Regions from separate parts of the Homo sapiens genome. Here region 2 is linked to region 1. Evidence: fine-mapped expression QTL. A gene starts in region 1. The other region holds a variant in brackets. All regions are shown on one strand. Distances are between the middles of the regions. Region 1 holds the start of SLC4A2 (solute carrier family 4 member 2). Region 2 has its middle 36 kb from the start of AOC1.

Region 1 (5,324 bases):
TGTGACCAATAGCGGAGCTGATTGTGGCACGGGGTTAATCATTAAGACTCCTTAGGAAAATCCAAAGGGGGCCATGTGGAGCGGTGGCCACGTGGGGGCAGGGAGGGGCGGGCCTGGGTGGCACGTGGGCAGGGGGCGTGGCCAGTCGTGGCAGGCGAGCTCCGCCCAGAACCCTGGCCCGCGTGCAGACTTGACCTGCGCCTCTAAGGCCAGCCGGGTCTGAGACGGGTTGCTGGGTGAGAGACCCAGGGTTCTCAAAGTTCCTCAACCGCTGAGGCTAAGCTACCTAGGTCTTCAGGTAACAGCCTCAACTCCCTCCCCAGGACTGGAAGACGTCTGATACCCCCACTACCCATCCCCCCCTACGACCATCATGCAAAGTCAGGGTAGGGATGGCAGCATCCTCCCAGTCTCCACACTCACACACGCTCACACCCCTGGTTGGCGAGGACCCTTGGCCGGAGCACCCAAGGCTGCCCAGGGAGGGAAGGTTGGGCTGGCGACCTGGGGGCCACACTCACCGTACAGAAAGAATCTGCGCCCTTGGCGGGGCGCCGAGGGGCGCTGCTCATGGCCGAATCTTAGCCCTTTTCGCTGTCGCTGCGGCTTTCAGGGCAACGAGGCGGAGGCATAACCTGGATGGGGGAGAGGCCTGATCACCATCGAGAGCCCTGGGAGGGCAGGAGCCACCACGCGCAGGCTGCGCTGCTGGGGATCCTCCTGGAGTATGAAGGGCCTCAGAGTGGCCCTTAGCGGCAGCCACAGCACAGAGGAGAGTTATTTATAGGAAGAAAAGAGAAGAACAAGGAGACAGGAGAGGACTGAGGCGAGGGGGGCCGAAAAGGGCCGAGAGGCTGAGTAGAGGGAGGAGGAGAGAGGAGGTGGGAAAGGCCGCAAGAAAAATGAGGGAGAAAGGAGTCAAGGCCCAGGCCCGGAGAGAAAGCAACAAAGATGAGGGAGGGAGTGATAATGAGCTGGGGAAAGAGGGGAGTGAAGGCCCAGGCAGACAACGGAGCCTCGCAGGGTCAGGGCACCCACCAGAGGTGGGCCTGAGACCAGAGAGGGTGTGGTGGGGAGGGTGAGACACCCCGTGGAGCCGGGGCCGGGCTGCCGAGACAGGAAGCAGACGAATGGAAGAACTCTGGAGAGAGCCCAAGATGCCCCTGCAGGGAGGGGGTGCCCCCTCCCCAGTACAGGCCGGCAGGAGGCTTCCCTCCCCCAGGTCCTTGGGGACCGGCAGGAGGGAAGCAGGCTGGCTGGGTGGAGGGCAGGAGCTCAACTCCACTCACTCACTGAGAGAGAGGAAGGCACAGAAGGTGGGCATGGGCTGGGCAGAGCTTTATAATGGGGGAGGGGCATGTGATGGGCTGGGAGGGGGTGGGCACCGCAACCTTGAGGTTCTGCCTCTGAGGGGCAGTCTGGATCCCGCCCCTCTAGAGCCTGGAGCCAGGAAAATCTGAGTGGCAGTGCTGCCACCCTCCTGACTGTGACTGTAGGGAGTCTGGGGAGGACACTGTGTGGTGGGGGCAGAGAAGGAGCTGCAGGAGGGAGCCCAATCCCTGCAAATAGGGGGCGCATTCCTAGCGGGTCAGCACAGGGGGCACCCAAGACTGGCAAAAAGTGACGGTACCCAACAACCCATGCTCCCAGTGTGTTGCTGGGGACTGGGGGTGCCTGACTTAGGAGTAAGACAAGTCAGTGTAGCGTCAAACAATATAGGTCTGGGGGGGTCACCCAGGATGGGGAGCCTGGCAACACATTCTTGGCAAGCACTCCAACTTGGCTAACCACGCTCTTCCCCTCCCCCTCAGCAGGCCTTCAGCCAGGGCGGGTGGTGTGGGTGAGCGTGAGTGCACCCAGTCTGGGAAGGGTGTGGGGAGAGTCCGCCCAGAGCACCTGCAGGCGCCCACTCCCACCTCAGGCTGTGCCCTCGTCGCGCTCCTCCACACTCCTCTGCACCCCCTCCCCTGCTGTCCCAGAACACAAAGCAGCTTCTGTCCAGAGCATCGGTGCCGATAATCCGGGTAGGGGCACATTCCCGGGACCAGCCCCGACCGGCCCAGAGGATTAGTATCTCTCCCCTTGACCAAGGGATTAGCACCTCGGACCCCCACTTGGGCATTAACCACCCCCCAAGTGAACTCGTAAATTCCGCAGCTCTTCCATGTGGGGCTGGCGGGGGAAACGAAGGGGGATAAAGTAGACCCTGGGTTTCAGGCAGTGCCGCCTCTCACACCCAGCACAGAACTTCCCGCCTGGACAAACCGACCCCGGGAGTCAGGTCCAACTCTCCGGGCTCATCTTTCCCATTCCCACCCAGCTGCTCCCTCTTCTGTCTGACCCCTTGTCCGACCTTACCCGCCACCCGCCTTTCCTGGCTTCGCCTCTCAACCCGGAGATTGGGGATGGGGGCCCCGGGCAACCCCCAGTCTGGGCGCCCCGGACGGGACTGAAGGACTATGCGGGGGGGCCGGAGGGGAGGGGTGGTCTGGAGCCAGCCGGGGAGTGGGAGGGCCGGCGGCGCCTCGGGGAGACTACCCCCTCCTGGTGGCAGGGGGCGCGGCACCCTGGCTTTAGGGAACTCTGAGAAGGGGACCCCGGAATGCCCGCTTCCGACCAGCACTCCATCCGCCTCCCCATCCTTCTCCCCAAGACCGCGGTTCCCCGCGCCCCAGTCTCCGCCCTTTCCTCCACTTCCACTCCCTCCCCGCTCGAGTCCCGAGTTCCCCCCTCTCCTTCCCCCTCCCTTCCTCCCTCTGCGGCCCTGGCCGTCCCCCGCCACCACCTCTCCGCCTACCCGCTCGCTCTGGACTTCGTGCCCCGGGGGTCTCGGGGTCTCTCCCCGTCCTCCGGCGCACTCGCGCGCTCCCGACGACTGCCCCGTGCCCACCCCGGGGCGCGCCCCCGCCGCTCCCAACTTCTCCCAACTCAACTTTCCCCCGCGCCGCGGGCAGGCCAGCCCCCTGCGTGCGCGCCCCCCGGCGCACCGTGCGCGGTCCCGCCTTCGCGGGTGGGGAGGCGGGAGCGGGGGCCGGGGCGGGGGCGCGCTTCCAGGCACAGCCCGGCACCAGGGGCCGCCCCCGCCGTCCCTCTGCCCCAAGCTTCTCCACTCGGGGCTCGGGAGCCCCGAGGATGCCGTCCCTTGGCTCCATTACGGCACCTCTGAGTGTAAAGGAGCCCTTCTCACGCTAGGGATCCCAGGCAGCAAAACGCAGGCACAAGGAAATTCGGGGAAGTCGAAACATAAACGTATCGGGGTTGAGATTCTCTTGCCCCCCTCAATAACCCCCGTGCCTCCAAGAAAGCCCCTGAGGGACGGGTGGCGAGTGGGTGAGAAGGGTGACAGGGGCTGGAGGCTGGCCGCCCGGTACCCTGAGCTGATCTGGGAGAGGGTAACTTGTTAGAGGCTCTCCACTTCCAGAGAGGGACAGAGATTCGCTGTGCTGGCCTCCTTCCTCTTGAATGGAACCTCCACACTGAACCGAACCCTAGGCAGAGCCATCACTTATCATTCAAGACCTTTGTGTGTAGTTCTTTTTTGCCCAACGAAATCACAAAGTCTTCCAGATAAGGAATACACTTTTTGCTTCTTTTCCCTTGTGTATGCAAAAGCATTCAGATAGAAACGAGTTAATTAACACGTGTTTAGCAGCAACTCTGGTTCCGGTGCTGAGGAGTGCTGTTTGGGATCCTTTTCCCTCGGTCCATAGCCCTCAAGAATGCAATCATGAGACAATTAGAGAGGCAGCGTAAGGGAATCTATAATCAGCTCCTTTAAGGGGTGAGGCAGAGGCTGCTGCAAGTTGAGCATCGGTCTGTGGTCTTGTCTGTGGAGGGGGTTAACCAACCTGCCTGCCACACCCTGGCTGACTCCAGTGGGCCCTGTTCCGGAGACTGGGGTCTGAGGGGGACCCCCAGGGCTCCACCCAGTTTTCCTCAGCATGTCAGAGTTCAGCGGCTAGAGTCGGGTGGGCTCCGAGACAACAAACGGGGCTCAGCAGAGAGGGGGTCTTTGGCGTGTGTCCCTCCACTAAAATCCAGCCTCGAAGGGGCACAGCTGTTCTCCCAGCCCTGCGGTCAGCTGTTCCCTGTGAGGTCATCATCGCTCACAGGCATTCCCCAGTCAATTCTGGGGTCACTAGGTGGCTTGGGGAGAGGTGGAAACCCGTGCTGAGGTCGTCAAGAGGCCGTTGGGAACACAATGCCACCAACCAGGTCAGCGCTGGGCCGCCAGTGCCCGGGATCTAGGCCGCCAAACCCCAAACCCCTAACCGAGAGCGCTCCGCCCCCATTTCCGCTGCATTCTGGAACGCGTAGTCCCGGAGCGGCCCTTTTCAAGAGGGCTGGGAGCACATAAAAGGAATAACAACAGCGGGGCACACTGGGAACCACGGCGCCGCGGCGGGGCGCCCGGAAAACGGACACGCGTTGCTTCCTGGGACTTGAAGTCCAAGGTTTGCCTCCGCGGTAGAAACGGAGCCCTGGAGTCGAGTGCTGCAGAGAGCGTGAGCGCAGACGGCTGGGGGTTGTAGTCTTCTTGTCCTCGGTCTCGGGCATTGCGGGGAGACCTAGTCGTTTTAGGACTACAAGCCCCAGAAGGCCCTGCGCGGGCAGACGGGGCGGGGCTGGAGGCTCAGGTGCCGCCTCCTCTGCAACGCCGGGGCCAGAGTCTTAAAACCGAGGGCCCGCAGGGGTCCCCGCGGCCGCCGCGATGCAGAAATACGAGAAACTGGAAAAGATTGGGGAAGGTAATGGAATCTCGAGATGTTCCTGCAAGAGCTCCTCTGCAGATCCTTCGGCATTCCTTGAAGCCCTGGCTCCCTTACCGTCAGCAATGCCTACAGGCTCCGATCTCAGCAGCGGCTGCAGCCCTGGCCCCCTAGCTCAGCACTCCGTGCAGACACCAGTCTTCCCCGTGTTAGCATTTCCCGCAGGGCTCTCACTCCAACCTTAGCGTTCCCAGTAGACCCGACCTCCCAACCGCGACACTTCCTGAAATTTCTCACCCCAGCCTCAGCAGCACTTGGACAACCTCACCCCGACCCCCAGCCTCGTTTCTTGCTGCAGACCTCCAACCTCAATATTTCTGCAGCCCCTCAGTCCTCTCCCAGACCCCTCCTCACTATTTCCAGACCCTTCCGGAGCACCGCCTTCATTTTAGACATCCTTGCCCTGGCAACCGCACTCGCCCCTCCTGCCGAGCCCCTGGAGCCTCGGTGGGCACCTTCTCCTCCCTCCCCACCTGCCACATCCTCACTCACAAAGCTCACCAACCTACCTTCACCCTGAATCCCTTCCCTTGCATACTGAGACGCTGCCTTCAC
Region 2 (5,373 bases), 170 kb after region 1:
TCCCTCTCTCCCTTTCTCCTTCCTCCTTACCTTCCCTTCTGCTTTCCTCCCTCCTCCTCTCCGTCCCCTGCTTTTAAAAATATAACAGTGGGAGGCTGAGGTGGGAAGATCACCTGAACCTGGGAAGTTAAGGCTGCAGTGAGCTGAGATTGCATCACTGCACTCAAGCCTGGACAGTGGGAGTGAGGCCCTGTCTCAAAAAATGTTGTATCTGTCTGTCTGTCTATCTATCTATCTATCTATCTATCTATCTATCTATCTATCATCTATCTATTTACAGATTTATCGAGTTATAATTTACATACCTTACAATTCATCCATTTAGCCTGTGCAGTTCAATGGTTTCTAATATATTAACAGAGGTTGTGCAACAATCTGAATTTTAGAACATTTTTAACATTCCCCAAAGTAACCCTGTACCCATTGGCAATTACTCCCAATTTCCCCCCAAGTCCCCTCAGCCCTAAGCAATCACGAACCTACAGAAAGTAGTAAAAAGGTGGTACCATTTTACATTCTCACCAGCATGTATGAAGGTTTCAATTTCTCTACTTCTCTACATTCTTTTTTTTTTTTTTTTTTGAGATGGAGTTTCACTCTTATTGCTCTGGCTGGAGTGCAATGGCACGATCTCGGCTCACTGCAACCTCCGCTTCCCGGGTTCAAGCGATTCTCCTGCCTCAGCCTCCTGTGTAGCTGGGATTACAGGCATGCACCACCACGCATAGCTAATTTTGTATTTTTAGTAGAGACGGGATTTCACCATGTTGGTCATGGCTGGTCTTGAACTCCTGACCTCAGTTGATCTGCCCGCCTCGGCCTCCCAAAGTGCTGGGATTACAGGCACGAGCCCCTGCGCATGGCCTAATTTCTCTACATTCTTAACAACACTTGTTATTGTCTTATCTTTTTCATTATAGCCTTCCTAGTAATGGGAAATGGCATTGCTCTGTGGTTTTGGTTTGCATTTCTCTAATGACTGGTCATGTTGAGCATCTTTTCATGTGCTTATTGGCAATTTGTTTATCTTCTTTGGAGAAATGTCTATTCAAATGCTTTGCCCATCTTTAATTGGGTTGTCTTTTTATTATTGAGGTGTGTGTGTGTGTGTGTGTGTGTGTGTGTGTATGGTGGACACTAGACTCTTACCAGGTATATAAATTTATAAATATTTGCTGCCATTCTTGTTGTTGTCCTTTCACTTTCTTGATAATGTCCTTTGAAGTGCAAACATTTTTAATGTTGATGAAGTCAAATGTATCTATTTTTTCTTTAGTTGCTTGTATTTTTGGTGTAATAGTGAAGAAATCATACCCTAATTCTAGGTATTTCAATATTTTTTATTTTTATCTTTTAAGAGACAGGGTCTCACTCTGCTACCCAAGCTGGAGTGCAGTGGCATAATTACAGTCCACTGCAGCCTCGAACTCCTGAATTAAGTTATTCTCCCACCTCAGCTTCCCGAATAGCTGGGACTACAGACATGTGCCTCTATGCCTGGATTTAAAAAATATTTTTTAGAGAGGGGGCTCACTATGTTGCCCAGGCTGGTCTCAAACTCCTGGGCTCAAGTGATCATACTGCCTTGGCCTCCCAAAGTGCTGGGATTACAGGCGTGAGCCACTATGCCCAGCCTACAGTTTATATCTTGATCTTGCATTCTGCAAATAGAGATAGTTTACTTCTTCCTTTCCAATCTGAAAGCCCTTATTTAATTTTCTTCCCTAATTTCCCTGAATAGGACCTCTGGGACAATGTTGAATAGAAGTGATAAAAGTAGATATTTTTATCTTATTTCTGATCTTAGCAGGAAAGCATTCAGTCTTTCCTCATTAAGTATGATCTCAGCTGTGTGTGTGTGTGTGTGTGTGTGTGTGTGTGTGTGTGAATTTTTTTGGTGGATTCCCTTTATCAGGTTGATGAAGGTTTCTTCTATTCCTAGTTTGTTCAGTGTTTTCATCATGACAGGGTATTGAATTTACTTAATGTTTTACTGAATCCATTGAAATGATCATGTGGGTTTTGTCCTTTATTCTACTGATATGATGTATTAAATTAGTTGAACTTTGGATGTTAAACCAACTTTGCATTCCTAGGATAAATCCCAGCTAGTCCGGGTGTGTAATCCTTTTTATATACTGCTGAATTTTGTTTGCTGGTATTTTGTTGAGGATTTTTGTACCTATATTAATAAGATCTCTCTCTCTATATATAACATTTATATCTATTATAAAATATAATA[C/A]ATATATTTTATAGAGACAGGGTCTCACTCTGCCACCCAGGGTGGAGTGCAATGGTGCAATCATAGCTCACTGCAGCTTCAAACTCCTGGCCTCAAGTGATCCTCCTCGGCCTCCCAAAGTGCTGGGATATAGGCATGAGCCACTGTGACTGGCCTCATAAGAGATATTGATGTGTAGTTTTCATTTCTTGTGATGTCTTTGTCTGGTTTTGGTGTAGGATAATACTGGCCCCATAGAATAAGTTGAGAAATACTCTCTTCTCTTTTATTTTTTGGAAGTGTTTGTAAAAGATTGATCTTAATTCTACTTTAGAATTTGGTAGAATTCACCATTTGAAGCCATCTGGATCTGGGCCTTCCTTTGTGGGAAATTTAACATGACTAATTCATTCTCTTTACTTGTTATAGGTCCATTCAGATTTTCTGTTTCTTCTTGAGTCACCTTCAGTAGTTGTGTCTGTTGGGAACAGGCCCCCCAAAATCTGGCCATAAGCTGGCCCCAAAACTGGCCATAAACAAAATGTCTGCAGCACTGTGACATGTTCATGATAGCCATAATGCCCACGCTGGAAGGTTGTGGGTTTACCAGAATGAGGGCAAGGTACACCTGGCCCACCCAGGGCAGAAAACCGCTTAAAGGCATTCTTAAACCACAAACAATAGCATGAGAGATCTGGGCCTTAGGGACATGCTCCTGCTGCAGATAACAAGCCAGACCCATCCCTTCCTTTCCCATAAGGGATACCTTTAGTTAATCCCGTTTCCCATAAGGAATACTTTTAGTTAATCTAATATCTATAGAAACAAAGCTAATGACTGGCTTGCTGTTAATCAATACGTGGGTAAACTCTGTTTGGGGTTCTCAGCTCTGAAGGCTATGAGATCCCTGATTTCCCACTTCATACCTCTATGTTTTTGTGTGTGTGTCTTTAATTCTTCTAGTACCACTGGGTTAGGGTCTCCCCGACCGAGCTGGTCTTGGCAGTGTCTTTCTAGAAATATGTTCATTTCTTCTAAGTTGTCTAATTTGCTGGCATAGAGTATCGTTTTATAATCATTTTTATTTCTGAAAAGTTGGTGCATTAGTTGCTAGGACCTCCATAACAAAGTATCACAGATTGGGTGGCTTAAACAATAGAAATTTATTTTCTGGCCAGGTGCAGTGGTTCACGCCTGTAATCCTAGCACTTTGGGAGGCTGAGGTGGGCAGATCACTTGAGGTCAGGAGTTTGAGACCAGCCTGGCCAACATGGTGAAATCCTGTCTCTACTCAAAAAAAAAAAAACAAAAAAAAACCCAAAAATTAGCTGGGTGTGGTGGCACATGCCTGTAATCCCAGCTACTTGGGAGGCTGAGGCAGGGGAATTGCTTGAACCTGGTGTCAGGCCTCTGAGCCCAAGCTAAGCCATCATATCCCCAGTGACCTGCACGTATACATCCAGATGGCCTGAAGCAAATGAAGATCCACAAAAGTGAAAATAGCCTTAACTGATGACATTCCACCATTGTGATTTGTTTCTGCCCCACCGTAATTGATCAATGTACTTTGTAATCTCCCCCACCCTTAAGAAGGTTCTTTATAATCTCCCCCACCCTTAAGAAGTTTCTTTGTAATTGTCCCCACCCTTGAGAATGTACTTTGTGAGATCCATCCCTGCCCCTAAAACATTGCTCTTAACTCCACCTCCTATCCCAAAACCTATAAGAACCAATGATAATCCCACCACCCTTTGCTGACTGTCTTTTCAGACTCAGCCCGCCTGCACCCAGGTGAAATAAACAGCCTTGTTACTCACACAAAGCCTGTTTGGTGGTCTCTTCACACTGACGCATGAGACACCTGGGAGGCGGAGGTTGGAGTGAGCTGAGATCACGCCACAGCACTCCAACCTGGGTGACAGAGCAAGACTCTGTCTCAACTAAAAAAAAAAGAAAGAAATGTATTTTCTCATGATTCTGGAGTCTAGAAGTCTAAGATTAAGTCCTTGGAAATTAATTTCTTCTCAGGCCTCTCTCCTTGGCTTGTAGATGACCATCTCCTCTCTGTGAACTTCACGCTGTGCATTGTCTATGTCTTAATCTTTTTTTTTTTAATAAGGACACCAATTATTTTGGATTAGGTCCTCCCAAATTACCTCACTTACCTTAATTACCTCTTTCAAGGTCCTGCGTCCAAATACAGTCACATTCTGAAGAACTGGGGGTTAGGACTTCAATATATAAGTTTTGTTTTTATCGGGGGAGACACATTTCATCACATAACAGTAGTAATGTAGTAATGTCCCCTTTTTCATTTCTGATTTTGACAGTTTGAGCCTTTCTCTCTAGCTTTCATCAATCTAGCTAAAGATTTGTCCATTTTGTTGATTTTTTTTCAAAGAACTAACTTTTGGTATTATTGATGCTCTCTATTTTTTTCTGTTCTCTTTATCTCTGTTTTAATCTTTATTATTTCTTTTCTTCTGCTTGCTTTACGCTGAGTTTGCTCTTCTAGTGTTTTAAGGTGGAAGGTTAGTTTAGTGATAGAAAATTTCTTCTTTTTTAACATAGTTATTTATAGATATAAATTTTCTTCTAAGCACTGCTTTAGTTGCATCCTATACTGTGTCTTATATATTGTGTCTTCATTTTCATTCATGTCAAAGATTTTCTAATTTCTCTTGGGATTTCTTCTTTGACCCATTGTTATTTAGGGAATATGTTGTTTAATTTCAACTTATTGTGAATTTCTCAAATTTCTTTTTGTATTGATTTCTTTTATTTCATGTGGTCAGAAAACATATGTTATATGATTTTAACCCTCAGAAATTTATTGAGGCTTCTTTTGTGGCCTAGAAAATGGTTGATCCAACCAGGTGCGGTGGCTCATACCTGTAATCCTGGCACTTTAGGAGGCCAAGGTGGGCGGATCATGAGGTCAGGAGATTGAGACCATCCTGGCCAACATGGTAAAACCCTGTCTCTATTAAAATACAAAAAATTAGCTGGGTGTGGTGGTGCGTGCCTGTAGTCCCAGCTACTTGGGAGGCTGAGGCAGGGGAATCACTTGAACTCAGGAAGCAGAGATTGCAGTGAGCCAAGATCACACTACTGCACTCCAGCCTGGCGACAGAGTGAGACTCCATCTCAAA

The links.
Region 2: its variant is fine-mapped to the expression of SLC4A2 in whole blood (TOPMed, PIP above 0.99).

What each region holds. Positions count from the first base shown.
Region 1 is chr7:151,057,236-151,062,559 of GRCh38, reverse strand. SLC4A2 (solute carrier family 4 member 2) reads right to left here and starts at 2,971. Exons shown (of 23, transcript NM_003040.4): 1 at 2,798-2,971; 2 at 522-635. The coding sequence starts at 572. CDK5 (cyclin dependent kinase 5) reads left to right here and starts at 4,663. Exons shown (of 12, transcript NM_004935.4): 1 at 4,663-4,748. The coding sequence starts at 4,712. It overlaps LOC128092247, which reads right to left and starts at 632. Exons shown (of 1, transcript NM_001414898.1): 1 at 582-632. The coding sequence starts at 632. The coding sequence ends at 582. RefSeq lists enhancers at 1,270-2,177, 3,701-3,790, 3,831-3,880, 3,961-4,240, 4,391-4,440 and 2 more and silencers at 2,278-2,867, 2,908-3,097.
Region 2 is chr7:150,885,951-150,891,323 of GRCh38, reverse strand. No RefSeq gene overlaps it. Among named protein-coding and RNA genes, the nearest start is that of AOC1, 36 kb to the right of the region's middle. The variant C/A (reference allele first, on the strand shown) is at 2,243.